7 linked regions of the Homo sapiens genome follow. The protein of the gene in region 7 purifies or fractionates together with the protein of the main gene of each other region. This does not show direct contact. Each region holds a gene or a part of one and is shown on either strand. Other genes may lie near its edges. The genes, in order: ZMPSTE24, RNFT1, SLC12A2, SNX14, EDEM1, ANO5 and MS4A15.

What was found.
Region 1: the proteins of MS4A15 (region 7) and ZMPSTE24 purify together in Homo sapiens (affinity purification with mass spectrometry; one large-scale study listed by BioGRID and IntAct). This does not show direct contact.
Region 2: the proteins of MS4A15 (region 7) and RNFT1 purify together in Homo sapiens (affinity purification with mass spectrometry; one large-scale study listed by BioGRID and IntAct). This does not show direct contact.
Region 3: the proteins of MS4A15 (region 7) and SLC12A2 purify together in Homo sapiens (affinity purification with mass spectrometry; one large-scale study listed by BioGRID and IntAct). This does not show direct contact.
Region 4: the proteins of MS4A15 (region 7) and SNX14 purify together in Homo sapiens (affinity purification with mass spectrometry; one large-scale study listed by BioGRID and IntAct). This does not show direct contact.
Region 5: the proteins of MS4A15 (region 7) and EDEM1 purify together in Homo sapiens (affinity purification with mass spectrometry; one large-scale study listed by BioGRID and IntAct). This does not show direct contact.
Region 6: the proteins of MS4A15 (region 7) and ANO5 purify together in Homo sapiens (affinity purification with mass spectrometry; one large-scale study listed by BioGRID and IntAct). This does not show direct contact.

What each region holds. Positions count from the first base shown.
Region 1 is NC_000001.11:40,271,443-40,275,881, forward strand, and holds part of ZMPSTE24 (CAAX prenyl protease 1 homolog), read left to right. Parts: intron 1-451; coding exon 452-593; intron 594-4,439. UniProt on the Homo sapiens protein: Transmembrane metalloprotease whose catalytic activity is critical for processing lamin A/LMNA on the inner nuclear membrane and clearing clogged translocons on the endoplasmic reticulum.
Region 2 is NC_000017.11:59,954,151-59,958,589, reverse strand, and holds part of RNFT1 (E3 ubiquitin-protein ligase RNFT1), read left to right. Parts: intron 1-145; coding exon 146-299; intron 300-1,207; coding exon 1,208-1,366; intron 1,367-2,036; coding exon 2,037-2,102; intron 2,103-4,439. UniProt on the Homo sapiens protein: E3 ubiquitin-protein ligase that acts in the endoplasmic reticulum (ER)-associated degradation (ERAD) pathway, which targets misfolded proteins that accumulate in the endoplasmic reticulum (ER) for ubiquitination and subsequent proteasome-mediated degradation.
Region 3 is NC_000005.10:128,186,935-128,190,579, forward strand, and holds the end of SLC12A2 (solute carrier family 12 member 2), read left to right. Parts: 3' UTR 1-2,743; downstream 2,744-3,645. UniProt on the Homo sapiens protein: Cation-chloride cotransporter which mediates the electroneutral transport of chloride, potassium and/or sodium ions across the membrane. Plays a vital role in the regulation of ionic balance and cell volume.
Region 4 is NC_000006.12:85,513,859-85,517,489, forward strand, and holds part of SNX14 (sorting nexin-14), read right to left. Parts: intron 772-3,631; coding exon 648-771; intron 377-647; coding exon 212-376; intron 38-211; coding exon 1-37. UniProt on the Homo sapiens protein: Plays a role in maintaining normal neuronal excitability and synaptic transmission. May be involved in several stages of intracellular trafficking. Required for autophagosome clearance, possibly by mediating the fusion of lysosomes with autophagosomes.
Region 5 is NC_000003.12:5,211,195-5,215,633, forward strand, and holds part of EDEM1 (ER degradation-enhancing alpha-mannosidase-like protein 1), read left to right. Parts: coding exon 1-22; intron 23-2,124; coding exon 2,125-2,328; intron 2,329-4,439. UniProt on the Homo sapiens protein: Extracts misfolded glycoproteins, but not glycoproteins undergoing productive folding, from the calnexin cycle.
Region 6 is NC_000011.10:22,276,034-22,280,472, forward strand, and holds part of ANO5 (anoctamin-5), read left to right. Parts: intron 1-60; coding exon 61-166; intron 167-3,510; coding exon 3,511-3,732; 3' UTR 3,733-4,439. UniProt on the Homo sapiens protein: Plays a role in plasma membrane repair in a process involving annexins. Does not exhibit calcium-activated chloride channel (CaCC) activity.
Region 7 is NC_000011.10:60,759,207-60,763,645, forward strand, and holds part of MS4A15 (membrane-spanning 4-domains subfamily A member 15), read left to right. Parts: intron 1-4,439. UniProt on the Homo sapiens protein: May be involved in signal transduction as a component of a multimeric receptor complex.

The sequences.
Region 1 (4,439 bases), on a different chromosome or scaffold from region 7:
TTTAGCTGATAAGCCAACCAAGTAACAGCACACAATCAAGTTCTACTAATTCTTTTTTGGGAAAGACTTCAGGTCTATTGTGATTACGCTAAAAGGTAGAACTGCGTGTTATGATTGACTCATGAAGCATCAGAAATCCCCAAGATAGTTTTGAAAGGACTATACTTATTACCACCTAGAGATTTTAATCACTGTTAGTAGCATTATCCTTTAAAATAAAATTCATAAGTTTACTCTGTTATCAGACTACTCATTTCAATTTAATTCATCAGACAGATATTATGCTCTTACTATCTGGTACTATTTGGGCCTGGGAATACCAGAGCAAGTAAGTTCCTTGTTCTCAAGTTTGAGGTCAACATAGTTGTTTTAATATAATTTAATCTGTATAATAAAGAATGTTTTTTCTTTAAGAACATGTTCATATGTTATTCTGACATTTACTTTTCAGGTTCTTGTCACAATCTATGCTGATTATATTGCCCCTTTATTTGACAAATTCACACCTCTGCCTGAGGGAAAGCTTAAAGAAGAAATTGAAGTAATGGCAAAGAGTATTGACTTTCCTTTGACGAAGGTGTATGTTGTGGAAGGTAAGGCTACCTGGGGATAAGAAAGTTTTATCCAAGTGGTTTGTTTTATTTGATACTTTATTCTTAAAATTTTAATAAAAGAATTAATCAGTTTTTGTTTTTTTCTTTTTAAAATTTGTTATTTAAAGGCTAGGAGTTTACCTTTTGGCTTTTTAAGATTTACAGAAATTGATAACATAGGCCAGGGATAGAAACTGGTGGCTTGATACCAAATCCTGCTCTTGTCTGCAGCTATGTTTGTTTGGTTTTACAGTATTGTTTTAAATTTTTGGCCAAGGCTTTTTCACTCTCTGTTATGTTATCTTATATATTAGACTGATTTATTCACTTCTGTTATCTGCCTAGTTCTTTTAGGTAGTTAAGTTGGACTCTTGAATAGTCAAATTCTGTTTAGTATTAGTTTGGAGGCTCTTAAACAAAGCCAGTGTTATTGGCCTTGTCTCCTCCAAGAAAATATCCAGTGTTCTGGAGGACTCACCTGAAGATTGATTACCAAAGACTGCAGTACCACTGAGTACTGCAGATTTGTTATACTCTGCTTTTTTGATGATTACTTTTGAGATTTAAGTGGTCTCTTGACCGTTACTCAAATCTTGACTTCCCATTAACACCCAGTCTATTACTTTCTTTGAGACTTTGGTAGTTGACTATTAAAGTCTCAAAGAAGACTACGGAGATGTAGAGAGAAACTGTTGTAAGGTTCTATGACTTTCAGAATTTATAAAGTCCATATAAATGAATGTAATAGTTCTGTTCCTGCCACTTACCAGTTATAGGATCTTGGACAAGTGACTTCACCCTTCTGGGTTTCAGTTGTATTTCCTCTAAGCTATGGTTTCACAAATGTTTTTTGTAAAGGGCTAGATAGTAAATATTTTAGCTTTGCGGGCCACTTGTTCTCTGTTGCAACTATTCAGTGCTACTATTATAGCGCAAAAGCAGCCATAGACAATACTAAACAAATGAGTGTGGCTGTGTTCCAATAAAACTTTATGAAAATAAATGGCAGATTGGATTTGGCCTGTGAGCTACAGTTTGCTGATCCCTGCTCTAAAATAAAATATTACCAGTGAGAAGCAGCAGTGTTAGATGAAGGAATAGAAGCAGAAACAATCACAGGGTTAGAGGAGAACAGAGATGGTCACAACTGAAAAGAATGAATCAACAGCAACTGGAAGAACATAGAAATTTCAGACATCTGGCTGGGCGCTGTGGCTCACGCCTGTAATCCCAGCACTTTGGGAGGCCAAGGCAGGCGGATCACCTGAGGTCAGGCGTTCGAGACCAGCCTGGCCAACATGGTGAAACCCTGTCTTTACTAAAATACAAAAAATTAGCTGGGCGTGGTGGTGCGTGCCTGTAATCCCAGCTACTTGGGAGGCTGAGGCAGGAGAATCGCTTGAACCTGGAGGTGGAGGTTGTGGTGAGCCAAGATCAAGCCATTGCACTCTAGCCTGGGCAACAAGAGCCAAATTCTGTCTAAAAAAAAAAAAAAAAAAAAAATATATATATATATATATATATATATATATATGTCAGACATTTAGTGGCTCCTGAGGATATACAGCCCAACTAAAGGCACGATTGGAGTAGCTTAAAAGTCTGTGGAGAAATGGTAGAATAAGCCAGTTCATACTTACTTCTTTAGCCTCTGAAATAACTACTCTTTTTTTTTTAGGTAATATTAAACTAGAAATTTAATCATTAATCAGTACAACAGAATAGTCTCTAAGCTGCTTTTACTGAAGGAGCAACCTAAGTTGCTGATCCCTTAAGTTACAATCAGATAACGTGAAATAATAGTTAATGCTATGACAGTGGAGGTAGTCAATAGAATATGTGAAATATATCGGTGCTATTTTCTTTTTATCTTTTTTTTTCCCCCTACAACATCCAGAGTATGAGAGCTATTTTCATTTTAGATAAAATAGTCAGGGAAGGCTTTATGGAAGGTTATGACCTGAGCTGGGTGTTAATGGGAAGTCAAGATTTGAGTAGGTTGGGGGCAGCATTTCAGACGTCAGGCTTCAGGGTCAAAAGGCTTGGGTTTGAATCATAGCTCTACCACAGATTACCAGTGCTGGGCTTGGTGGCTCCAGCCTGTAATCCCATCTACTGGGGAGGCTGAGGTGGAAGGTCAGGAGTTCGAGACAAACTACTTGTGTGACTTTGCGCAACTTAGCTTTGCCAAACAGCAGTTTACTCACCTATAATGTATGTTTTAATTGTTGTTAACAACAGTAACAATTCTCAAAAATATTTTGAATGAATGAATGTTGTTGCTGACAATAACAACACACATTACATATTTGTAAATTGGTAGGGAGATTGTAGTGAAAAGCCAAGAATCTTGCTCTCAAAATATTATCAGATAGCAAGTGCTATGCAGCAAATTAAACTAGTTTGGTCTGATAAGTTGATACTGTAGATTGGTCATCAGATTGAGCTGAGACCTAAAGGGAGGAGCCGCCCATTTGACGTCAATGGGAAGATGTTCAAGGACCATGAAGAAGTCCAGTGTGGCTGCACCATAGCAGGAGAGTGTTAGGAGATGAAATCTGAGACATAGGCAAGAATCAGTCCACATAGGCCTTTGTAAGTCAGGGTAAGGAGTTTGGATTTTGAGTTCAGTGGGAAGAGCCATTGAAGGCTTAGACAGGAAAGTGACATGATCTGCTTTGTGTTTTTAAAATATCCTGGGCTACTGTATGGAGAATATGTTGTAGAGACAGGCAAAAGTCTAGGTAGGACATAATGGTAGCTTAGACTAGGATAATAGTAATTAATGGAGAGAAGTGGATACATTTGGGACAAGTTTTAGGGTAGAGTTGATTGAATTTTCTAATTGATTGCATTGGGAGAATAAGGGAAAGAGTGACATCAAAGATAATGGCCTAGACTTTTGACCTGAGCAGTTAGATATATGGTAGTTTCCTGAGATGGAAAAAAATAGGAGAAGAGTAGGTTTGTGGGGAATTAAGACTTCTAATGGCTATATTACATATTGAGGAACCTACTAAACATTGTATTAGAATTCTGCAAGCAATAGAAACCAACTGTGGCTGATTTAAGCAGAAAAACTGCTTATTGAAGCACTATTTGGACCAGGCGCAGTGGCTTATGCTTGTAATCTCAGCACTTGGGGAGGCCGAGGTGGGCGGATCACTTGAGGTCAGAAATTCGAGACAAGCCTGGCCAACATGGTGAAACCCTGTCTCTACTAAAAATACAAAAAAAAAAAAAAAAAAAAAAGCCGGGCGTGGTGGCGGGCGCCTGTAGTCCCAGCTACTTGGGAGACTAAGGCAGGAGAATTGCTTGAACCCAGGAGGCGGAGGTTGCAGTGAGTCAAGATCGTGCCACTGCACTCCAGCCTGGGTGACAAAGCAAGACTCTGTCTCAAAAAACAAACAAACAAACAAACAAAACCAGTATTTGGCCAGGCGTGGTGGCTCACGCCTGTAATCCCAGCACTTTGAGAGGCTGAGGCAGGTGGATTACCTGAGGTCAAGAGTTCGAGACCAGCCTGGCCAACATGGTGAAACCCCATCTCTACTAAAAATACAAAAATTAGCTGGGCATGGTGGTGCACACCTGTAGTTCCAGCTACTGGGGAGGCTGAGGCAGGAGGATCGCTTGAATCTAGGAGGTAGAGGTTGCAGTGAGTCGAGATCGCGCCACTACACTCCAGCCTGGGCAACAAGAGTGAGACCCTGTCTCAAAAAAAAAAAAAAAAAAAAAACAACGTTTGATATCTCACAAAATCCACAGGAAAATTAAGTTTACGAAGCTCAGAAAATGGGCTGTTACATAGGAAGGCTAGGAACTTATAATCATATTGCAGAACCT
Region 2 (4,439 bases), on a different chromosome or scaffold from region 7:
ATTCCATTATTGTGAACTCTGACATCCTGCCAAACTCATATTTTTTACATATCAAAATAAAATATTTGTAGCAAATTAAAACCCTTTATTAATACTTTATCTTTGTATGTTGCTCTGATAAATTTTGATGTTTTTCTTTTGGTAGCTTAATTTTTTTAAATCCTACTTTGGACCATTTGAGCTTCTGGGAAGTATTTTGGATTGTTGGAATTACAGACTTCATTCTGAAATTCTTTTTCATGGGCTTAAAATGCCTTATTTTATTGGTGCCTTCTTTCATCATGCCTTTTAAATCTAAGGTAAGAAACTCACTTATGCTTTATTGGAGTGATGTTATCGAATCACATTAATGCTATTTAGTCTTTGTTTAAATGAATCCTCCTTTTGCAGTTTTTCAGTTTGCTAACTAGCTTAATTATCTGTATTATTTCAGCTTAGCAACCATTTGTTCAGGCACTTGAACCTGATTATTAACCTATTTGGATAAAATCAGAATTATATTTGCTTCAGAATAATTTTAAAATCAGTCCCCACATCATATGTGGGAAACTATTTAGATGTGTACTTCTGTTCTCCAGGGCATTATCAATTGACAGTTGACTATGTACAATTATTCAGTGGTTTCCCATATGCACTAAAAACTTTTAAATTCTTATAATCAGCAAAAACATACTCACATAGGTTTTACTTGCAGTATACATAAAACATTCTCATTGTATCTTTTTTTTTGGTTTTGTTTTGTTTTGAGATTGTCTCTCGCTCTGTTGCCCAGGCTGGAGTGCAGTGGTGTGATCTTGGCTCACTGCAACCTCCGCCTCCTGGGTTCAGGCAGTTCTCCTGCCTCAGCCTCCTGAGTAGCTGGGATTACAGGTGCCCACCACCACACCCAGTTAATTTTTGTATTTTTAGTAGAGACGGGGTTTCACCATGTTGGCCAGCTGGTCTCGAACTCCTGACCTCAGGTGATCTGCCCATCCCAAAGTGCTGGGAGCCACTGCGTCCAACCTAGAAATTCTTTCAAAGCAGGCCACTCAGTGACTGTAATATGTGAGAACCAGCTTGAGGTTCAGTCATAATCATTATGAAGATTAATTTTATAGTTATTTATATTATTGTATAATATACTCAGTGTTCTCAGTCTAATATTGTTTGTGCTATGTAGTTAAGTAGTTTGGGTAGCTCTATTTGTTTTCTTCTTATTTTTTAGGGTTACTGGTATATGCTTTTAGAAGAATTGTGTCAATACTACCGAACTTTTGTTCCCATACCAGTTTGGTTTCGCTACCTTATAAGCTATGGGGAGTTTGGTAACGTAACTAGATGGAGTCTTGGGATACTGCTGGCTTTACTCTACCTCATATTAAAAGTAGGTAACATTACAAATCTTGTCACTGCATGATTCACATTAATGATTACTGATACATACTACTGTTTTCCTCTTTTAACAGTTTTATAGTTTATCTTCATATCACTAGTTTGAAGTAATAGCAGGTTCTATATTTGTTTAGAAATGGAGAAACGGAAATAGACTATCTTAATCCAGCGGTCCTCAGGTTTCACTGGAGGGAAGGGGAGTCGACCTTCACATAGCGTGGATTATCTAAGTAGGGAAAACAAGTGGAATAGAACATACCCATCCTCAACAGTAACATTGTCATACACATAATTCTTAAACTAGTAGAGTATCTTGTCCTGTTCTCTCCATGCCTGCACCCCTCAACCTAATAATCACTTTATGAAACTTTAAAATCTAAATGTTAAAAACAGGTGAATCAGATAAAATTGCTTTGACTTTGACATAGTTGTATTTGTCTTGATCAAATTGTTACTCTAGGTGTTTAAATGTACTTCAGCTTGCTGAGATGGCTCAAATCTATAAATTGAATAAAATACTCAGCACAAAATGATTAGATGTGACATATAATGAACATTAAGTTAATATGAGGATTTGATGTTATGGGATTTCAGCTTTGGTTTTTGGGTTTAGCAAATAGGACTGTTTGAATTAATAAATGATCTCTTATTTCTCTTTTCAGCTTTTGGAATTTTTTGGGCATCTGAGAACTTTCAGACAGGTTTTACGAATATTTTTTACACAACCAGTAAGTACTTTTTATCAGTTAAGAAAAACACCTTCACCTTTCTTCACTGCAAAAATTTTTTTAGTTCAGCAGTTTTACAAGAATGGATTTCATAAATAGATGATCCTTTTCTTTTACTTTGATTATTTTCTAGTACTTTGGCACTTGGGGCTATAATAATTTAGGAGTTTTATCTCTGTGATCAGATTCTTGAATCACACATTGACAACCACCTGCTAATTGTTGCAGTGCTTATATATTTGAACTTGTCTCTTGCCTCTTCAATCCACTGGACATTTTTAAGGCTTGTAAACCCTTAACAATCTTATGAAATTGTGTTCCTCTTTTTTAATCCACAAATGGGGGCTTTGTTTGTTCCTATTAACTCCTTATTCACCTGTGAAAATCCTTCCATTGTAATTTATTGTTTAGAAAGCTCACTGCCAAAAATCATGTCTCTTGCAGTTTTCTTACTGGAGCAGATTTCCCCATTGCTCAATTATATGTGCATAAATACGTTCATGGCATGAAATTTAACAATTAATTGAGTCTCTGGTGTCATTTATAACATTATTGTGTGATTCTATTGATGTTGCAAATTGCAGTGAAAGGATGTCATAGAGAACCCTAATTTACCACTTAGTAGCCTGAAAGGTTCCTAGTACCTATGTGTGGTCAGCAGACTTCAGGGTTTGATTCTCAATTTTGCAGTCATTTCATCAGGGCCCAAGGAGACTGACTTAAAAGAATGCCAACCGAATAATATACCGTAAAAATAAAAAAAGAATTATGTCTACAAAGTAAACGAGACTAACTGGCCAGGGCCTTTTCCCTAAGATAGAGTTAGCAATGTAGAAACAAACTTTGCTACATCCTATGCAAGCTTGTTTCTCTAGACAAGACATAATAAAATTCAGAGAGTTCAGCTTTGTCCAAGTCAGTTCAACTGATGATTATGTGAGCATCAACCATTTTACTATAATTGGTCTTGTAAGATTTGTGCCGAAATACTCTCAAGAAAATACCCTGATATTCTTTCTCTGAGACAAACTACAGAGAGGATATCAGTCATCAATACTTGGATTTGTTCAAGTCTCCTTTACCAGGGAAATGGCAGTTACTATCTGGAGAGGGAGTCTCCAAGATGCCAGATGAGTAACGTCTTAAAAGCTTGTCAGCATAATTATCTGCAAATGTACTTTGCTAAATGACACCTTACTGAAGGGAAATTGACACCAAGATCATCTAACAGTATCCTGACTTATTTCTGAAATCTTTATTACCAGTTTCAAAAAACCTCAATTTTTAATATCTTTATCCTTTGAGTTTTACTTTGATTTTGATGTTGTTAGCCTGAGACGTTTTAGTACAAGAAGTTTAGATAACTTCAGCTATGTTAAGTCATGCTTTACCCTCATGACCGTGACTGACTTGGGTGTTCTTACATCTCTTTAGTTACCTCTTCCCCATCATTTCTACAGAAAGCAGGTTTCATTTGTAACATTTTGATTTCTCCAAATTTCACTGAGGGTTATTGACATCACATCTAGTTAATGACTAAGTTCTGAATCTGGTGAGGAGGTTAAAATCTTAGAGACGAGTAACTTGTTATTAGGACATTAGAAGAGAAGAAAATTCAAATAATTGCATTTTTGTTCAGTTAGTTTTGACAGTAGTTATTCTACCAAAGCGACATTTACAGTTGCAGTTTCTCCGTAAAACTTTTTTATGTTTAGCACTAAATGCTTTTTATAATTTCGAATAATTTTTAGACCTAGTGGCAGAAAATTCTTCAGTGGTCCCTAAGTCTTCTTCATATTGCACTCACTTGGAGACCTTTCAAATAATAGATTACTGGGTCACATCCCAATATGTCTGGTCCTAGTGAATTGATATTGTGTGGAACAGAGAAATCTATTTTTAAAGCAAGCTTTCCACATGAGTTACATTCAACCAGCCAACCTCTGGCTGGATTGACTTTATGAACCACTGCTGCAGGTAATAAGCTCAATTTGGCAGTCCTGGGTCAAATAATACATGGCTATAGATTTTATAATAGTTACATTTCAGATTGCTTAGTCTCTTAAGCCAGTTATGTTGAATTTGAAGCACTATCATCCTTTGTAAAGCTAGTAGATCTAACAATCTTTCAAAATCCTATTATGTATTATTTAATGATTTCATTTTGGTGCACTCAAGAGGTGGTTCTGTATATGGCTCAGCTTTGAGATGTTTGTATCCTTTGGGAAGTTTTTCAAATGCCTGGTTCCAGGGAGATTTGAGAAGTACAGCATTACTTATGTAATTTGAGGAACAGGAAAGAAAGAAATTTGTAGATGAACAGAACTTACTATCTTC
Region 3 (3,645 bases), on a different chromosome or scaffold from region 7:
AAGTACAAAAAGCCTTTAGCCTTGAGGTGCCTTCTGAAATTAACCAAATTTCATCCATATATCCTCTTTTATAAACTTATAGAATGTCAAACTTTGCCTTCAACTGTTTTTATTTCTAGTCTCTTCCACTTTAAAACAAAATGAACACTGCTTGTCTTCTTCCATTGACCATTTAGTGTTGAGTACTGTATGTGTTTTGTTAATTCTATAAAGGTATCTGTTAGATATTAAAGGTGAGAATTAGGGCAGGTTAATCAAAAATGGGGAAGGGGAAATGGTAACCAAAAAGTAACCCCATGGTAAGGTTTATATGAGTATATGTGAATATAGAGCTAGGAAAAAAAGCCCCCCCAAATACCTTTTTAACCCCTCTGATTGGCTATTATTACTATATTTATTATTATTTATTGAAACCTTAGGGAAGATTGAAGATTCATCCCATACTTCTATATACCATGCTTAAAAATCACGTCATTCTTTAAACAAAAATACTCAAGATCATTTATATTTATTTGGAGAGAAAACTGTCCTAATTTAGAATTTCCCTCAAATCTGAGGGACTTTTAAGAAATGCTAACAGATTTTTCTGGAGGAAATTTAGACAAAACAATGTCATTTAGTAGAATATTTCAGTATTTAAGTGGAATTTCAGTATACTGTACTATCCTTTATAAGTCATTAAAATAATGTTTCATCAAATGGTTAAATGGACCACTGGTTTCTTAGAGAAATGTTTTTAGGCTTAATTCATTCAATTGTCAAGTACACTTAGTCTTAATACACTCAGGTTTGAACAGATTATTCTGAATATTAAAATTTAATCCATTCTTAATATTTTAAAACTTTTGTTAAGAAAAACTGCCAGTTTGTGCTTTTGAAATGTCTGTTTTGACATCATAGTCTAGTAAAATTTTGACAGTGCATATGTACTGTTACTAAAAGCTTTATATGAAATTATTAATGTGAAGTTTTTCATTTATAATTCAAGGAAGGATTTCCTGAAAACATTTCAAGGGATTTATGTCTACATATTTGTGTGTGTGTGTGTATATATATGTAATATGCATACACAGATGCATATGTGTATATATAATGAAATTTATGTTGCTGGTATTTTGCATTTTAAAGTGATCAAGATTCATTAGGCAAACTTTGGTTTAAGTAAACATATGTTCAAAATCAGATTAACAGATACAGGTTTCATAGAGAACAAAGGTGATCATTTGAAGGGCATGCTGTAATTTCACACAATTTTCCAGTTCAAAAATGGAGAATACTTCGCCTAAAATACTGTTAAGTGGGTTAATTGATACAAGTTTCTGTGGTGGAAAATTTATGCAGGTTTTCACGAATCCTTTTTTTTTTTTTTTTTTTTTTTTGAGACGGAGTCTTGCTCTGTTGCCACGCTGGAATGCAGTAACGTGATCTTGGCTCACTGCGACCTCCACCTCCCCAGTTCAAGCGATTCTCCTGCCTCAGCCTCCCTAGTAGCTGGGACTACGGGTGCACGCCACCATGCCCAGCTAATTTTTGTATTTTGAGTAGAGACAGGGTTTCACCGTGTTGGCTAGGATGGTGTCTATCTCTTGACCTTGTGATCCACCCGCCTCAGCCTCCCAGAGTGCTGGGATTACAGGTGCGAGCCACTGCGCCTGGCTGGTTTTCATGAATCTTGATAGACATCTATAACGTTATTATTTTCAGTGGTGTGCAGCATTTTTGCTTCATGAGTATGACCTAGGTATAGAGATCTGATAACTTGAATTCAGAATATTAAGAAAATGAAGTAACTGATTTTCTAAAAAAAAAAAAAAAAAAAATTTCTACATTATAACTCACAGCATTGTTCCATTGCAGGTTTTGCAATGTTTGGGGGTAAAGACAGTAGAAATATTATTCAGTAAACAATAATGTGTGAACTTTTAAGATGGATAATAGGGCATGGACTGAGTGCTGCTATCTTGAAATGTGCACAGGTACACTTACCTTTTTTTTTTTTTTTTTTAAGTTTTTCCCATTCAGGAAAACAACATTGTGATCTGTACTACAGGAACCAAATGTCATGCGTCATACATGTGGGTATAAAGTACATAAAATATATCTAACTATTCATAATGTGGGGTGGGTAATACTGTCTGTGAAATAATGTAAGAAGCTTTTCACTTAAAAAAAATGCATTACTTTCACTTAACACTAGACACCAGGTCGAAAATTTTCAAGGTTATAGTACTTATTTCAACAATTCTTAGAGATGCTAGCTAGTGTTGAAGCTAAAAATAGCTTTATTTATGCTGAATTGTGATTTTTTTATGCCAAATTTTTTTTAGTTCTAATCATTGATGATAGCTTGGAAATAAATAATTATGCCATGGCATTTGACAGTTCATTATTCCTATAAGAATTAAATTGAGTTTAGAGAGAATGGTGGTGTTGAGCTGATTATTAACAGTTACTGAAATCAAATATTTATTTGTTACATTATTCCATTTGTATTTTAGGTTTCCTTTTACATTCTTTTTATATGCATTCTGACATTACATATTTTTTAAGACTATGGAAATAATTTAAAGATTTAAGCTCTGGTGGATGATTATCTGCTAAGTAAGTCTGAAAATGTAATATTTTGATAATACTGTAATATACCTGTCACACAAATGCTTTTCTAATGTTTTAACCTTGAGTATTGCAGTTGCTGCTTTGTACAGAGGTTACTGCAATAAAGGAAGTGGATTCATTAAACCTATTTAATGTCCATTCTTATATCTGTTTAATAAGTCTTTGCCAGCTTTGTGGTTTTATCTCATTTCGATAACTATTGCTTCATTCATTTCTGAATTTTTAAAATAGCTTTTACCTTAATATTCACGCCCTGGAAAAGTCGTTCACTATTCTTAAACCTTTGCAATAATCACTGTTGATGCTCACAGTATGACTGAACCATCTGAGATGCAGCTCATTATGGTATTTTTTTAAGTGACCTAGCTTTTCTAATTCTGCTTTATCTTTGGGCCAGATCTCTCATTTGTGAATGAGGAAACTGGAAGATTAAAAGCGATTCATAGTCCCTGAATATAATCTGATTCTTTCCTTCCAAAGATTTTTGTCTAAGCTCATTTAGAGTTTTAGAAAGCATTTTCATTTTCTCATTTGAATATGACTGTAGGTGTGTATATATGCAGGACAGCTATTTCTTTTACTCTTGAGAAAGCAGCTTGGAGCAGTTTAGGGAGTTTTCCAAGGTCATGGGGTAAATCAAGGAAGGATATTGGTCTAGAGCCCAGGTCTTTTATCCCCAGGAATTTCTTTATTATGCATTCACTGCTGGCTGATCCATAAGATAGATGGCTGGGATAGATTGGTCATTTCCAGATTGGTCATTTCCAAATTACTTACACCTGTCCGCCCAGTAAATGTGTGTTCAGGTAAGGCAAATTATAGTTAGAAATATAGGTTGGCTACAGGCTGCCTTTAATAGGTTTGAAACAAAATGTAAATATCCATTTTTTGATTTGTCATCTTCCTTATTCTCAAGCCACTATTCAGGCCAGTTTACTCACTTATTTGGAAAGCTAAAAGAGAATTTGAAGGCAACTATGTATGTGACATTTTCTAATATCAGACCATCCAACAGTTTTTAAAACAGGA
Region 4 (3,631 bases), on a different chromosome or scaffold from region 7:
AGAGAGCGAGGTTCAGTGTTTTCACAGAATATAGCATCTAAAAAAGAGTAAAAAGAAATATTTCTGGAATTTTCATCTATTTATACACAAAGGATTTCCTCATAGTAGAAATACTAATAAACCAAAGCAAAACAAGATTTCTTCCTCTTTAGATTCAATTAAAATCATAGAGTACACAAAATATGAAACAAACACATTAGAAAATACAAACCTCTGAGAAGTGTTATGAGTGAGACCAAACGGTGCTCCTGAAATAGCTGTTCTAGTTTACACTGAAGATAGTAATCAGTATACATTTCCAGGGTGTTTTTAAAGAGGATTCGAGTTCCCATTAAGAGATGATGAAGCCAGTCAGGAACCTGGAAAACTACCCGTCCTGAGAAAGGATCAAATGGGATACCTCATTGTTCCAGATGAATTGGTATTTTTGAAATTTGCCAATGTAGAAAACACAAATGACCATGGTCAATATTTTATTTGTAAACACTAGCAACTTTAATATGATCAAGGCCAATCGTATTGAATTATTATAAAAGGTATCTTCAATTAAAAAGACAGTTATGATGGGGCAATACTCAAGATCATTATTTGCATCACAGAAGAAGTAAGATGAATGAAAAACAAGTCTTAAACCACTTAGATCTTACCTACATACATCAGGTAATCATAGACTCCTTCTACAGTCATCACCTCCATAAAATAATTCTGATTTTGCTTTCTCTCTGTATTTTCAGCACGGTTTGCATTATTTTTAAACAGATCATTGAAAAGCTAAAATAAAAGTTGGAATAATAAAGAGATATATAGTTTATTACATCTGCTGACGATAATCAATAAGGATTAAGTGTCACACAGCAAAGGCATTTAAACTTTTTCCAATCAAAACAGAATATTAGATAGGTTAATATATGCTTCTAAAATTCCCCATTTATGCCCCGAATTGCAATAAAAAATACATGTTCCCCAAAAATATTACATAAAAACTAAAATATTCATTTTAGTTACAGTAGATAATTCATTATCCATTAAAGACCCCTTTGTTTTTACATACCACAAAAGCAAAGTAACATAAAAAGATGTACAAATATATTATTGATAGCTAACTTTAAAACTAACATGATTTAGGCCAGGCGCAGTGGCTCACGCCTGTAATCTCAGCACTTTGGAAGACGGAGGCAGGCAGATCACCTGAGCTCGCAAGTTTGAAATCGGCTTGTCCAACATGGTGAAACCCCATCTCTACTAAAAATACAAAAAAATTAGCCAGGTGTAGTGATGCGTGCCTGTAGTCCCAGCTACTTGGGAGACTGAGGCAGGAGAATAGTTTGAACCTGGGAGCCAGAGGTAACAGTGAGCCGAAATCGTGCCACTGCACTCCAGCCTGGGTGACAGAGCAAGACCGTCAAAAAAAAAAAAAAAAAAAAAAAAACACTAACATGATTTAAAGATTATAAATCACTATAAGTAGAGGTAAAAATCCAGCGTTAGGTGAAATTTATTTGGACAATATTCAAAGCCCACAAAGGCCTAATCAATGTTGGGGTGGGGGGGAACTAAAACAAGATATTAAGAATTAATGGTTGCAGTGAGCCAGAGATTGCACCACTGCACTCCAGCCTGGGTGACAGAGTGAGACTCTGTGAAAAGGGAGAAAGAGGGGAGGGGAGAGGGAAGAGAAGTAAGGAGACTGTGGAGGAAAGTATATTCGATTTTACCTGAAGATGAATTTTTTAAAAGCCTCCTAGAAAAGTATCCTGAGAACAAAGACCATATATTCTATTGGCTCTTATGTCAGATATTATTAACACAGACACATACTTAAAACATTTTTCCCCAACCCAAAAAATAGGAAAAGGGCTCTCCCTTCTGATATATTATTCCCTCTACTCTTTTAAATTTTCAGTGTAATTTTTTTTTTCACTAAAAAACAGTGATATTATATAGTAAGTCTGGAAAACGGGAAAAACAACTCAATTTTGTTTTCCCTCTGTATTTTCAGCACGGTTTGCATTATTTTTAAGCAGAAATCTAAAATAAAAGTTGAAATAATAAAGAGATATACAGTTTATTACATCTGTTGACAATAATCACTAAGGCTAAATAAAGTGACACAGAGCAAAGGGGCATTTAAACTTTTAAATTAAAACTCAACCACCTAATAGTGTTACTATTAAACTTTTGTATATTAACTTGTACTCTCTATATACATAGCCACAAATCAATGAGGTTCAAAAAATATCACATCCTACTTTTTCATTTAGCACCATATCAAATATCTTTATGTTGCTTTATAGTTTTCATAAGCACAATTTCATCTGCTGCAAAACACTCCTTGAATAGATGTTCCTTAAAATAATCATTCCTACAATGTTAGAATTTCATGTTGTTTCCAATTTTTCACTTATGTAAACAATATTTTAATAAACACCTTTACATGTTATAAGCTCTTCTCTTATTTTTCTCCCTGACAAATTCCTAGCATTCCTAGCATGAGTTCAATAGGTTATATTTTGTAACCTTCATGACTCATGAAGTAATAAACCTGAAGAATTTTGTAATTGTTAAAGAAATTAAATTGGTTATAAAAAATCTTCCTACAAACAAAACTGGAGGCCTAGATGACTTTACCAACTCTATCAAATATTTATAAAAAGTCTACCAAAAATAAAAAATGCTAATAAAACTTTGATACCAAAACCTAACAAGGACAGAATGAGAAAGAAAAATTATAGGCTATATTCTACCCATAAACATGAATGTAAACTTCCTTAATCTTTTTTTTTTTTTTTTTTTTTTGGAGACAGAGTCTTGCTCTGTCCCCCAGGCTGAAGTGCAGTGGCGCGATCTCAGCTCACTGCAACCTCCACCTCCCAGGTTCAAGCGACTCTCCTGCCTCGGCCTCCCGAGTAGCTAGGATTACAGGCACCCACCACCACGCTTGACTAATTTTTGTATTTTCAGTAGAGGCAGGGTTTCACCAAGGTGGCCAGGCTGGTCTCAAACTCCTGACCTCAAGTGATCCATCCACCTTGGCCTCCCGAAGTGCTGGGATTACAGATGTGAGCCACTGCACCTGGCAACTTCCTTAATCTTATAAAGGTTATCTATTAATACAAAAAGAGCTACACCACACTATTCGATGGTGAAATAATTAAACAATTTCCTTTCTATATAGCAGTCCTAGTCAGGAATAAAACAAAACTGCAATCATCTGCAACAATTGTGTCAATATAAAAGAATTACCAGATATTACTAAAACTAATGTTAAGTCTAGCAAGACGACTAAATAAAAATTTTCTATCTATATATACAAGTTATAAAATGAAAACATTAATAATATTAAAGATACCATTCAGAGTATTAACAAAAATAAAAGATAGAGGTCCTCTGAGCTTCCATAGCTCCCCATGCTGGGCACTACACCTTGGCACTAAACACCTTCTTGAGGACAAGGAATGTATCCTTATATTCCCAGTGCCTAGCACTCAATCGTAGGCATGTAATAAAATGTTTGTTTAATGAATGGATAAAATACTTTATAAGCCATGAAAGTTAGGTAATGCCATCCAATAAACATAAACACAGTATAGCAATTAATTTCTTATTATTGAAAGTTGGTGACATATAACCT
Region 5 (4,439 bases), on a different chromosome or scaffold from region 7:
GACCTGTAAATATTTGTATCTGGTATGTGTGTTGCAAGATGAACCCAGGAATATTTAGTATTGCTTAGAGCAAGCATTCGCATAGTCTTCCATCTGACAGGTACTTACTGGCTAAAGCTATGTGCTGGACATTGTGCATTCCCAGGATGCAAACGCTGTCAGAACCAAAGGATATTACTATCTTCTTTCATGGTTTCCAACCTTGTTGAAAAGTCATTTGTCAAGTAAACCAAGAACTGAACTTATGATTACAAACTGTGGGAAATCCTGGTAACGATTGATACAGAACCAGTGTTAGTTCTGTATCTAACTACAGGTGGTCGGGGAAGACGCCTCTGAGGAAGAGAGCTGTGTTCATAATGGCTTCTCACTTCTCTTGATGTATGTGATCTTAGCCAAGACCTGCAGCTCAGCCTTGTCTCTGTCCATACACACATCCTCAGGCACATGAGTGAGTGAGTGTGTGTGTGTGTGTGTGTGTGTGTGTGTGTGTGTAGAGAGAGAGAATTTCTGGACCTGGACGAACCCTTTGGTATTACCTAATGTTCATATGTTCATCATTTCCCTCACAAGAACTACAGCCTACACAGAGGTCAGGCGACTTGCTCAAAGTATGGCGATGGCTGTGGCAGAGCTGAGGTGTGAACTGTGGTCCTGACTCCCTGTCTGGTGCTCTTTCCATCTCACCGCTCTGCCTCGTGCATACAGCCACTCTCGTGCCCCCTGCCACTTTCCTCAGTATGGCCACATAGAAACAGAGGGCAGGATTTCCAGGTTAGAAGATAGCATGGCAACTGAGAACTTGGGCAGAGGGTCAGAGATAGAAGCAGCTGTGATAAATTGTGTTTATCTAGTTCCGTGGTTCCTAGGCCTGGGGCTAGCTGGGTCCAAATCACCCTGGGGCCCTTGCTAAGATGACAGCCATATTAAGTCAGAATCTTCAGAATAAGCGGGCTCAGAAATCTGTCATTTTGACAAGTGCCTCCAGTGGTTTCACATGAGCCAGGTTTTGGAGCTGCTGGTCTAATCCATTAAGACGATACTCTTCTCTGTCTGGGGTCTTTTCACAGATGACTGCAGAGGTATGTCCACCAGCAGCCCATGTGATCTGTCCAGTGGGAAGACAGCTGTCCTGCTGTCGATTCCTGTGTGTGCAGTGGTTCTTGCTCTCCTTGCAGGTGGCTCAGTTCTGCTAAATCAGGCTGGTCAGAGCCTAGCTACATATTTCCATCCAGCAGCCACTGGTGTCAGAAGGACGTTAACAGGGCGAGTTTTAGAGTAAAAGGAAGGTGACCCTGGAGGGTGTGCTAGCTGAAAGAACCTAGAGTCTGGGGAGAGGAAAACCTGTGGTCTACCCTGTTCTTCTCTTGTTACTGTGTAAACATTGACAAGCTGCACTGAATCTCATTTTTCCTCATCTTGAAATAGTTTAGGTGACCAATAAAGTTTCAAAGAGTTTCTAGGTATTCATTCATTCAACATTCACAGAACACTTGCCTTCTCCTGCACTGTTGCATCCCATATTGGGTTAGATGTTCTTTCTAGATGCTCTTTCGTTCCGTGTCACATGCACCATTGAGGGAAAGGACTGTGCCTTGTGTCCATTGCGTCTTCAGAGCCCAACCCTTGTTGTGCAAGAAGTGAAGTGAATGTTGGCAGATGTGTTGGGCTCTGTGCTAGGCCCTGGGGAAATGGTGGTGGATAAAACTTGGTCCCTCCCTGTCAGCATTTACAGTTCAGGGTCTAGGTGTGTGTGAGGTTGGGTGTAGTTCTAGAATTCCAGCAGGAGAACTCTTAGGTAGCACATGGAAATCATCCAGTGAACTTTTATAGACTACCTGTGCTTGGGCCTTAGTTTCAGAATTTCTGAGTCTCTGCGTCTGGGCAGGGTATGTGTAGGGGAGAGGCAGGTCTGGGCATCTGAGTTTAGATGAAGCAGGTGATTCTGCCTTGCAGCCTGGGTTGGGCACCACAGTTGTCAGTCAATTCCTTTTCACCCAGTTGTCACTGAGAAGCATGAGGCCCAAGCAAATTCTACTCCCTGAGTAGCTGGGACACGCCCCCATGATTCAGTTCCCAGTGTGCTACAATTATTGGTTGTATCTTTTTCTCCGTTCCCTCTAGCTGTTTGATGAAGACAATCCAGTACACAAGTCTGGAACCAGATACATGTTCACAACAGAGGGACACATTGTATCTGTGGATGAGCATCTTCGGGAATTGCCATGGAAGGAATTCTTCTCTGAAGAGGGAGGGCAGGACCAAGGGGGAAAGTCTGTGCACAGGCCGAAACCTCATGAGTTAAAAGTCATCAACTCCAGCTCCAACGTGAGTTGCTTTTTCCAGGGGTGATTTGCATATAGAGGAAGAGAAGATACTATGAATTGCTTAGTTGTTCAGACTTCCTGACAGAAAATTGATGGTGTATGCAGATTGGGAGATTTGAAAACACCTCCTAAAGACACCATTTACATAGCTGTTGTCAGGGTATAGGGAAACCGCAGGAGCAGCGGTGGCATCATCACTGCTGGCTGCAGGTGCTGGTGGGGAGAGTGGCTACAGGATCCTGGAAGGGGGGAGCCTTGTGGGAGGAGCGAGCACTCAGCAGGAGCCACGGCTCAGATCTGACTTTCAAGGCCTTGCCTGGAGGGAGCCGGCAGAGTCAACATGTGACCCCTCCCCGCTCCCCCAGTTGCCTGCTGGAGCATCTTCTTGGCTGCCTGGGGCAGAAGCTGGAGGCCGAGGGAGCCTGTTGATATGATCCATCAGTGGACCTGGAGGGGCAAATGGAAGACATTCAGCAAAATCATTTACCAGCAGCAGAAGGGAAAAAAAGCAGTGATGGTCACGATGGTCCCAATGAAGATGCTCTTCGAAGTGCAGCAAACACCCACATTCATTTAAAGTGGGGCTTTACTCCACATGCCTAGATTGTCCTGAGAAGCAGCAGGAAAAATTTGGAAATGGAAGTCCTTGCATCCCTAGTGAAAGTATCAGGTAGTTGTGTTGATTTGAATCAAATAGGATGATTTGGAAGTGAGGATAGGGAAATGTAGGTCAGTCAAAATTTCAAATCTTGTTATCCCCCAGGGCCTTGGTGGTCAGGAGTTCGGCAGCCTCCCCACAGATGGGTTGCCTTGGCATTAGGGGTGCCCTCTCATCGCCGACTGTGCTTCAGTGCTTTTCCGTTAATGCCCCAGTGAAGGTCTTCACCATCAGTCTATGAAGTAAATCGATAGGCCAGAGTGTAGATAACCACCCCCGCCCCCATTTCCATCAGTCATGGAGCGCTGATTGAGTGGACAAAGCATAATCGGGAGGAAGGGGAAGGAGGGTGAGAGGGGGAAGAGTTAATAACAGCCAGCATTTGCAAACACATACCAGGGTTAGCCTTTGCACCATTCTAAACGCTTACGTACATTAATCTGTTTACTTCTAACAACAGCCCTGTGAGGGGTGGTTACTTTTAACATCTCCATTTTACAGCTGAAGAAAGGGAGGCACAGAGAGGTTCAGGTCCCACAGTGGAGCCAGGATTTGGACCCAGGCAGTGTCTTCTCTTTTAGGAAGGAGACATCTCTGACCTGCCATACTCACTAATAGATCTGATCCCATGATTCCAGGCACCAGGGATTCAGGCCCTCAGAAGGGCTCCCGGTTCTGGATAGGAGCATGGCCTAGTGGGGAATCCACTTCCATCCTAGGCGTTTGTCTGTAGTGCTGTTGAAACACAGAGGGTAGGGAGTAATCTCCAGAGAAAATCAAGGCAGGATTCCCTGAGGAGGTCACTTGCTGGAGATCCTTGAAGGATGAAAAGGGGTATCCCAGAAAGGGTGTTCAGGCAGAAGCAGTAGCACCTGCAAAAGCACAGAGATGTGGGCTGGTGGGGGCAGTCGGGACCAATGGAAGGACCGGCCAGTCTTGATCTTGCCAGGGATGAGGAGCAGGGTGTAGTAAGTTCAACTTACTACAAAGCGTGGGGAAAATGTTTCTTTGGAGATGAAGCAGATAATGAATGTATTTAGACAACTGCTTCCAGGGATGTCACAGTTGGTTAGTTCTCAAGATGTGCATCTGCTTTGAGGAAAAAAAGTGGTGGGGGTGGGGGGGTTTTAATTAAAGAAATAGTCTTAAGCATTTAGAGTTTAGTGAGTTGTGAATGAGAAAAACATAGCTCAGAAAAACACAGTATTTTCAAGTAGCAGAAATGTTTTCTGAAATTCTGGGCGGACTAAGGACCCCAGGGATGTGGCTTTCAGTCCTGGCCACGAAGCAGTTGCTGCGATGCCTTTTAGCTTCCCTGGATCTGCCATTTCTTTATAAAGTGAGTGAGGATGTTAAATTATGTCACTGGTCTTCACCTGAGGGTGATTTTGCTCCTCAGGGAACATTGGAACAGCGTCTGGAGACGTTTTTGATTTTCACAGCTGAGGCGTAGG
Region 6 (4,439 bases), about 38 Mb from region 7:
CTCTAGTTGAAGCTATAACTATTATTATTTTTTTTTTTTGCATTTACTTCCACTTTTCAGGTACAGAGATTACAGATATCCTCCTGATGACGAGAATAAATATTTTCATAATATGCAATTCTGGCATGTCCTTGCTGCCAAGATGACCTTCATCATTGTTATGGAAGTAAGCTGTTCTTAACTTTCATTCGAGTTACTCTCTTCTCTCTTTAGGCAGATATTTCTAAAGGTAACCTCTCATCAGAAAGTTAGCAATATCTCAGTAAACTGTCTTGAAGGAAGTATTGTATTTGTAGTCATAAAAAGCACCTTAGGGATATTCTTAGTACAATGGATTGCCTATTATTCACTTATTATTGTTGAACATGTCATGGTGACAGAAAAGGAAAGGAAAACAAATATGGTTTTTTTCCCTTCAAGTCAGGAAAAGGGGAAATAACCCACTGATTTTAGAGAATACCTATTACTTACTAGTTCCAGAGGCTGTATTAAATCATAACAACATTGTTAATTAGACCTTATCGCTCACCTTTGAAAAGGAATCTGAGATTCAGCAAAAATAAGTAGCTGGCTTAACGTTAACTAACTAACATTAGCGCTGAGTCTCAATGCCAAATGTGCCTCACTCCCAAGCTTATGCTCTGTCTACTATATTATGCTTCCTCTCTTGTGGAATATCTAGTGTAGTTATAGAGATAAGGCCTGCAAGAAAAGGTAAACAATACAGAGGCAGTATTGGGCAAAGTTTCAAATTGAGTGATACAAATCATAGGGCAAGAAGGCCTATCAGGGAGAGAAAATAAAAGAAAGGTACTTTTTCACCCTGGAATAAAGCCCGATAAAAGACAATCCTAACCCAAGAACATGCCATTCCAACCAGTTTCTGTTTTTTTTTATTGTTATCAAGGTTTCACATGTAATTTTAAAAATCAAATAGTTCTGCATGGGAAAAAAACAAAAGAGCAATCGTACATAATATACCTGCCTACCCTAAAATCCTAATATCCAAAGTAAACTTCTCAATTTTTTTAACTCATTCTTCTAGTAGTTGCCCTTGTATGGCAAAAGAAGATCATTTTGCAGTTATATATTTTTATTTTTTAGGTTGAGCTATCAATTACTGACATTCTACTTTGGCAGATCTCACACACACACCCACACAGACAGAAAGAGAGAGGGGGAAAAAAAACTTTCTCCTACTGCTCAATAATTAAAGCATATTTTTTTGGTCTCATTCTGAAATTCAAAACCTCAGAAAACAGGAAGTATTTTGATAATTTATTTAGCAGCAACATATGATCTAATTCTGCCTTTATTATTTTTAGTGTGACTATTCATTTACTTTGCTGCAGAAATATTTAAGTGTTTGATACAGAGTGCCACCTGAGACCCTGCTGGTTTATACACTAAATTACATATGTTTAATATTTAATCTCAATTCTGAAATATTTCTGTCCATCAGAGTTTTGATTAAGAGATTTTATATAAATACAATAGTCAGGGTTTATAAATTATGACTTTATAAATATTAGTCACATCTGTTTCCTGTCTTATATTCTGAACATATTTCTTTTATTATAATTGTACTTTTCTTTTCTCCCTCTGTCTCTTAGTTCCTTATGAATTTATCAGTCTTTCATTCCAACATTTTGCGTCAGAAGTTTAGATCACCTTTCAGCCAGTAAATTACTTCCGGAATTCTTTTGTTTTAATTTATTTATTATTTGTGTTAATTTTTTGTAATCATTGCAGGCTCCAACCAAGCATCATCCTGGGACTTCTCTTCATCTTGTCTTCTATTGAAGACTAAATTTTCTGCAATCTATGTTTCTCCCATTTTTGGTTTACTAGCTTATTTTGGTGAAGCACATCTTCTAGTAATTTTCTGAGGAAAAATTATGGGCAGTCCATTTTTGAGAAATTGAAGATTGAAAATTTCTTTTCTTTCCTTACATGTGATTATTTGGAATAGAATGTATAATTAAAAGTTGTTTTTCTTAAAAAAATTTTTAATCAACTTTATTTTGGTATTCCTGAAATTTTGAAGATATTGCTTCATTTTCATTCAGCTTCCAGTATTGCTACAAAATGCAATACTATTCTGACTCCCCAGTCTTTGTGTATTATCTATTTTTAAAATCAATACGGTTTTAGGATTCTGTCATTAGCCCCATTTTTATGAAGCTTCACAAGATGGTTCTTTGCTATTTGTCAATATTCATTGTTTTAAACACTCATTGAGCCCCTTAGATCTAAAAACGTACTTACCCTTCAAGTTGAGAAAATTTGCTGGCATAATTTCTTTGATAAATTTTTGATAATGTCTTTGATAAATTTTTTCTTTCTTTGTGCTGTCTCTCTGGAACTGCTGTTATTCAGATTTACACTTCCTAGTTTGAAATTCTAATTATTTGTTTTCTATGAAAACCTGGATTAATATCTTTTTTAAAATTCTACTTTTTTCTTTTACTCCTTTCCTTATATCTGGTTCTTTTCCTTTTTTTTTTTTTTTCCATGTCAGAGATGACTTACCTACATATTTGGTGGTTCTGCTCATGTTTAAGAGTGTGGAAGTGAAAAGCTGATTTTAAGCATTTTGTGCATACAGGAGTGATGTCACTTGGTGGGTTTCACTGTAGGTTGATAACGTAGTGAGCTGATATTTTCACTGGATCCTTACAAAATTTTGACATCCACAGTTCTGCTTTTACAGAATAGTTATTTTTCCCAGAGAAAGCCCTTTATAGCTGTCTATTGAGATATTTTGTGGCTACCTATTTTCTAAGACCTGAGCAAGGCAGAGGGGCTATGTATCTCACAGTTCATTGTGCTGAATTTCACTGTTTTTACTTTTTTTTTTTTCAATATGTTGTCATACCTCCACTGTGTCTGGTGCCCCTGGATTCACAGCTTTGTGGTATAATTTCTGCAGAAAACAAACTCTTCAGCTGCTTCCAGGGTATAGCATGGAGTGAAAGAATACCTGGATACAGATGGGAGAAAGGCTCCAAAAATTCAAGTGCTCCTTATGCAGATTTGTATCTAATCCTCTTGTTTTCAACTCCAACTCAAACTAATACCTTCAAAAGTCCTTATTGCCTTCTTTCCTGAACTTTTGTGACCATCTGAAACAAAATTGGCTTTTGTCTTTTTGGTTTCCACTATCAGTCACCACATCACCATTTGCAAGTTTGCTAGCCTTTTTCACTCTTTTGAGTCTAATTCCTTTATAAATATTTTATCAGGTTTTCAGGAAGGAGCAGTGATAAAGAGTATATTCAATAATCATGTTCAACTGGAATATTGCTAGTTACATATTTAAGTATATATTTATTTGTTTGATGTTGATCTTTGTATGAAAGTTCTAGGACAGAGACCATATCTTCTTCCTTGCCTTTCTACCTCATATGTTGAGCAGTTTCTTAAATAAGTGAAATGATTTGTAAAGACTTTCTGCTGAGCATGTGACACCTCTAACAGCGTCTAATCTTTCCTTTATATTTCCTCTAGCATGTTGTGTTTTTAGTTAAATTTTTGCTGGCCTGGATGATACCTGATGTTCCAAAAGATGTTGTGGAGAGAATCAAGAGAGAAAAGTTAATGACTATCAAGATTCTCCATGATTTTGAGCTCAACAAATTAAAAGAGAACTTGGGAATTAATTCTAATGAATTTGCCAAGCATGTCATGATTGAGGAAAACAAAGCACAGCTGGCTAAATCAACACTCTAATCAGTATAGTGAGGAAGCAGCAGGTGATCTGCCTTACTTCACTTTATCCTCTGGTTTTAGGGCCAGACGCCAGAAGCCATGTGTCAATTTTACCCTTTCTTTTTTTTTTTTTTCTTTTTTTTTTTAAACTCAAAGTTTTTATACACTTTTATAGAGGCCAACTTTGTGATGTTGGAAATGTACTACTTCTCTGCTTCATTGACTGGGCCCTCTCCAGATGTTGTTTTCTGAGGTGCTGTAAATGACTGTTGAAAGTGCAGGTAGAATCAGAATACTGGGAAATTATGGAGTCTTGCAGTTTAGTAAGAAACACTGGCCTTGGGCTGTCCCATCACTTTCCAGTGCATCTATTTATTTTTGTGGTCTTCTCTTGGGTTATTTGATACCTCCTTCCCCATTAAGAAAAATGTTGGGGCAAAAAGAAATGGATCAAAGAGACTGACTGAGCCCTATATATCCTATCATTTTAAAATATGCAAATGAATTGCCAAGATCAGATGACATAAGAAAACTCACACATTAAGGTGTTAATGTATCATAGCAGAGGTTTATTCCTAACACATTCAACTACCATCAGAATCCCAGATAGTTCTTCCTGGTAAAGGCAGAATTCCTTTTCTCGAGACTGAAATTTTGGGTTTCAACATAAAACAACTTGGTTCTTAGAGATAATAATTTGGTTATAATAGTTTCAAGACTGATCTTAT
Region 7 (4,439 bases):
GCTTTGAGACGCTGTTAACCTGTAACTTTAGCCCCAACCCTGTGCTCACAGAAACATGTGCTGTACTGAATCAAGGTTTAAGGGATTTAGGGGTATGCAGGATGTGCCTTGTTAACTATATGTTTGCAGACAGTATGCTTGGTAAAAGTCATCGCCATTCTCCATTCTCTATTAACCAGGGACACGATGCACTGCGGAAAGCCGCAGGGACCTCTGCCCAAGAAAGCCTGGGTGTTGTCCAAGGTTTCCCCCGACTGAGACAGCCCGAGATATGGCCTCGTGGGATTGGAAAGACCTTACCATCCCCTAGCCCGACACCCGTAAAGGGTCTGTGCTGAGGAGGATTAGTAAAAGAGGAAGGCCTCTTTGTGGTTGAGATAAGAGGAAGTCCTCTGTTTCCCACATGTCCCTGGGAATGGAATGTCTCGGTGTAAAGCCGACTATTCGTTCTATTCTGAGATAGGAGAAAACTGCCCTGTGGCTGGAGGCGAGATATGCTGGCAGCAATACTGCTCTGTTACTCTTTACTAACTGAGATGTTTGGGTAAAGAGAAACATAAATCTAGCCTACGTGCACATCTGGGCACAGTACCTTCCCTTGAACTTATTTATGATGCAGATTCCCTTACTCACATGTTTTCCTGCTGACCTTCTCCCCACCATCACCCTGTTCACCCTGTTCTTCTGCCGCACCCCCCATGCCAAGATAGTGAAAATAGTAATCAATAAACCCTGAGGGAACTCGGAGACCGGCGCCGGTGCAGTTCCTCGCATGCTGAGTGTGCCGGACCCCTGGGCCCACCGTTCTTTCTCTGTACTTTGTGTCTTATTTCTTTTCTCAGTCTCTTGTCTCCACCTGACGAGAAATACCCACAGGTGTGGAGGGGCAAGCCCCCTTCGATCATCACCCTCTTTACATCACACATATTCACTCTCATTCTGGGCTACCTGGTCCCTTATCAGAAGGGAACGCTCGAGCTAATGCTCTGGTACACACACAGATGTGGTTTGCAGACTCTCCTGCTTTTTTGCGAATTCAAGCTGATCATGCTTTTTTTCCATCAGAACGCCTGCAGTCTTAAACAACAGTTTCATTTAACACTTGCTCAAGCTCACATGATTATTAAAACTTATCCTGATTGCCAATGGCATTCTCTTTCCCCTTTTTCCTTAGGACTTGGTGCCAACCCACGAGGTCTGGTGCCTAATGCTATCTGGCAAACTGATGTTACTCAGTATCCACCCTTTGGACGTTTTAAATCTCTCCATGTTACTGTGGACACTTATATAGACCTAATACATGCTATCCCCATGCCGGAGAAAAAACTAAAGATGCAGTTGCTCATTTGTTTGAATCTATTATGACTCCAGGCCTTCCACAAACTGTAAAACTGATAATGGCCCCTGCTATCTTAGTGCTCACTTTGGCTATGCATTGCAACTTTGGCAATAAGATCAACATACAACCCAAGACTGGGATTCTCTGTAACTCAACCAGTCAGGCCATTATTAAACAAGCTCATCAAACTCGTAAAGTATATCTTAATAAACAAAAAAGGGGGAATATCGGGCCCTCTTCTCGAGAACAGGACCTGTCATTGGAGAATCGACTGACAATGACGGTGATGACTCAGAAGGCACCTGACATTACCTGGGGACAGCTAAAGAAATTGGATCAACAGGCAACTATCCGGCTTGCAGGCATAGAAGCCTCTGTAACTGCAGAGAATCAGTTTCTTATGTATCTGGGGGTAATTGGGAAAACTTCTGAGAAAGTAAGACGACATAGATGTTGGGGTGGCTGGTAATTCTTGTCCTTTGCCAAGTGGGATCACCTCAAGAACATGTTTACTGGAGTCATGTTCTAAATCCCCCTGTTTTTAATGTTATTTCATGGTGGGATGCTGACCTGCCTTTGTCATCTAATGATACTTCTTGGACGAGAGGTCGATGGATGCCCCTGTCTTACCCTTCAGTGGAAAATTTGGGATGGATTAAACTTAATAACTCCTTGGTTGTATTGTCTAGTAATCCCCCTCTTTGTTTTTCCACAATAGCACATGCTAAGTGTGTTACTCTTATTCTTCAGGAGTATCTTTACTATCAGTGTAAAAGGGATGCTAAGCTTGCAAACTTGACCTTTATTTCTGCTATTACCACTAATCTTACTGAGGTCTCTAATGAAGCTACACAAGTGCCTGATCTTCCTATATGCCGTCTGAGTAGGGACTGGGGATATAAGTTTGAGGCCATTCAGTGGTCTCCATCCAGACAGCCTGCGCCATGTCAAGGGCCTCTGTTTGATAATGGCACCTTACTTGATTGGAGTCCCCATGGTTATCTTATGTCTGCAAATCAGACTATTGGATCTGGGAGTCCCCAGTAAGTCTATCACCTGGTCAGAGTACAGGCTTTCAGGACCAATATTACAACTAAAAGGGAAACAAGCTTTAAGCCCTGCTCATACCCAAATTTGGAGATTAGAACTTCCTTTTTTTGAATGGGTTCTTTCACATGATGAGTATATTACTAGCAGTGGCAATTATACCCTCTGTTTCCATAATAATGTTACTGACATAGTTGTGATTTGTACTACGCACTCTTATATACTTTTGTTTGGGCAAAGTGTTCCTAATATAGAGCAGAATCAATCCTTTTATAGTAGTAAAGTCTCTTCCAGTAGTTAGTATGCTACATGCCTGTCTCATCGAAATGTTACATAGTTAAATATAACCTATGTCATGATCTTAAAATGGCGTGCAGAATTTTGGCTGCCTGTAAATTTAGCCTGGAGCTGGGAAGGAGATTCAACCCTGCAGCTGTTTAGAAAAGCACTGTCTCATACTCAGAAAAAAAGATTTCTGGCCACTTTAATTGCTTTTTTAGTCTCAGCTATTATTATATTAGCAACTGCTGCTACTGCAGCTGCTTTTTCTAACAAAATCTATTCACACAGCTTCAGTGGTGAACCACATGGTATATAATGTAACCCATAAATTTCAAAAACAGGTAAATATTAATCAAACTACTCTGTCTCACCTGGAGGCTCTTAAAGCTGCAGTTGAATGGCTGGGGGATCAGCAGCTGGCATTCATTACCCATCAACATTTATATTGTAATTGGCAATATAATTCTATCTATGTCACACCTCTGCCATATAATAGCTCCCAATATGCTTGGGAGAGAGTGAAAACACACCTGCAAGGGGCTTATCACAATCATTAGTCTTCTCAAATTCCCACTCTTAAGTGTAAATTTAAAAAACAACTTAAAAAATGGTCACAGCAATTATAAACAAATACCCTTCAACAATTATAAAAAGGCTTTCAATAGTTAAACCCAAACACTTAGTTATCTGGGTTAAACATACACATTTGGGTAATGGCCAATATACTTATTCTTTTTTGTATTTGTTTGCTAGGTATGTACAAATGGCTCTGTGCTGTCACTCAGTGCATCTATAACCAAGAAAAAGCAATAAAAGCTTACCTCGCTTTAAATAACCAACATACTCTAAAAATTAAAGAAGGGGGAGATGTTGAGGGTGCACGGCAACATATCCAAGCTTATGTACATGGCATTTGAGGTTGGGGCATGGAAAAATACTGAGGCACTCTGTGTATGTTATTTATGCATGAGAATGTAACTCCTTGACCCTAAAAACAGGACAAGGATTGAGGTGTGTAATAAGGAACGCTGAAAACAGCCTCCTAAGAAGGTGGTTTGAGAGCTTTTATAAGGTCATAGGTGTCTCATGACCCTCAAAAAGCCATCTAGTGGATGTTTGTGGTTTAACAAGCTCTTTCAATAAATACTTGGCGGACAGATGCTGGGGTGGACTCTCTCAGAAGAGCTCCCCGCCACCCCCGCTCGAGGCCCACTCAGCTGGAATTGTCTAAGAACTCATTCTTGGCATTCACTGCAAGCTATAAACTCTGCATAAAGTTTCCATATCTACACATTTCTTGGCTACATCAATGGTAATTGCTTGGGTGGCCAAATAGAAAGCTTCCCACAGCAGGTGGGAAGTTCCCATACCCAGGGGAATTATTGACGCTAGCTCAATAGTTGAGAGCTGAGAGGCAGGAAGTGGCAGTGAGTCCTGGTCTCGGGGTGAAGAAACCGGTACTCTAGCTAAGCTCTACCTTGCACTAGCTGTGTGTCCTTAGGTAAGTCACTTGCCCTTTCTGGGAAAAGAAGGGCATTTAAATAAACACTCCTCCAAAAGGAGCTTTCCACATAATATAGCTCAGAGATTAAGAGCAAGGCCTCTGAAACCAGAGAGACTAGAATTCAAATCTCAGTCTTACCCCACCTACAGGCCCTTGACCTCAGACATCTTTCGCTTCTCTGAGTCTCAGCTTCCCCAGCTTTGATGAGAGCGTTTGGGGCCATACTGGCAGGGCTGCAGTAAGCAAGGGAAGTAGGCACGTTGCTTA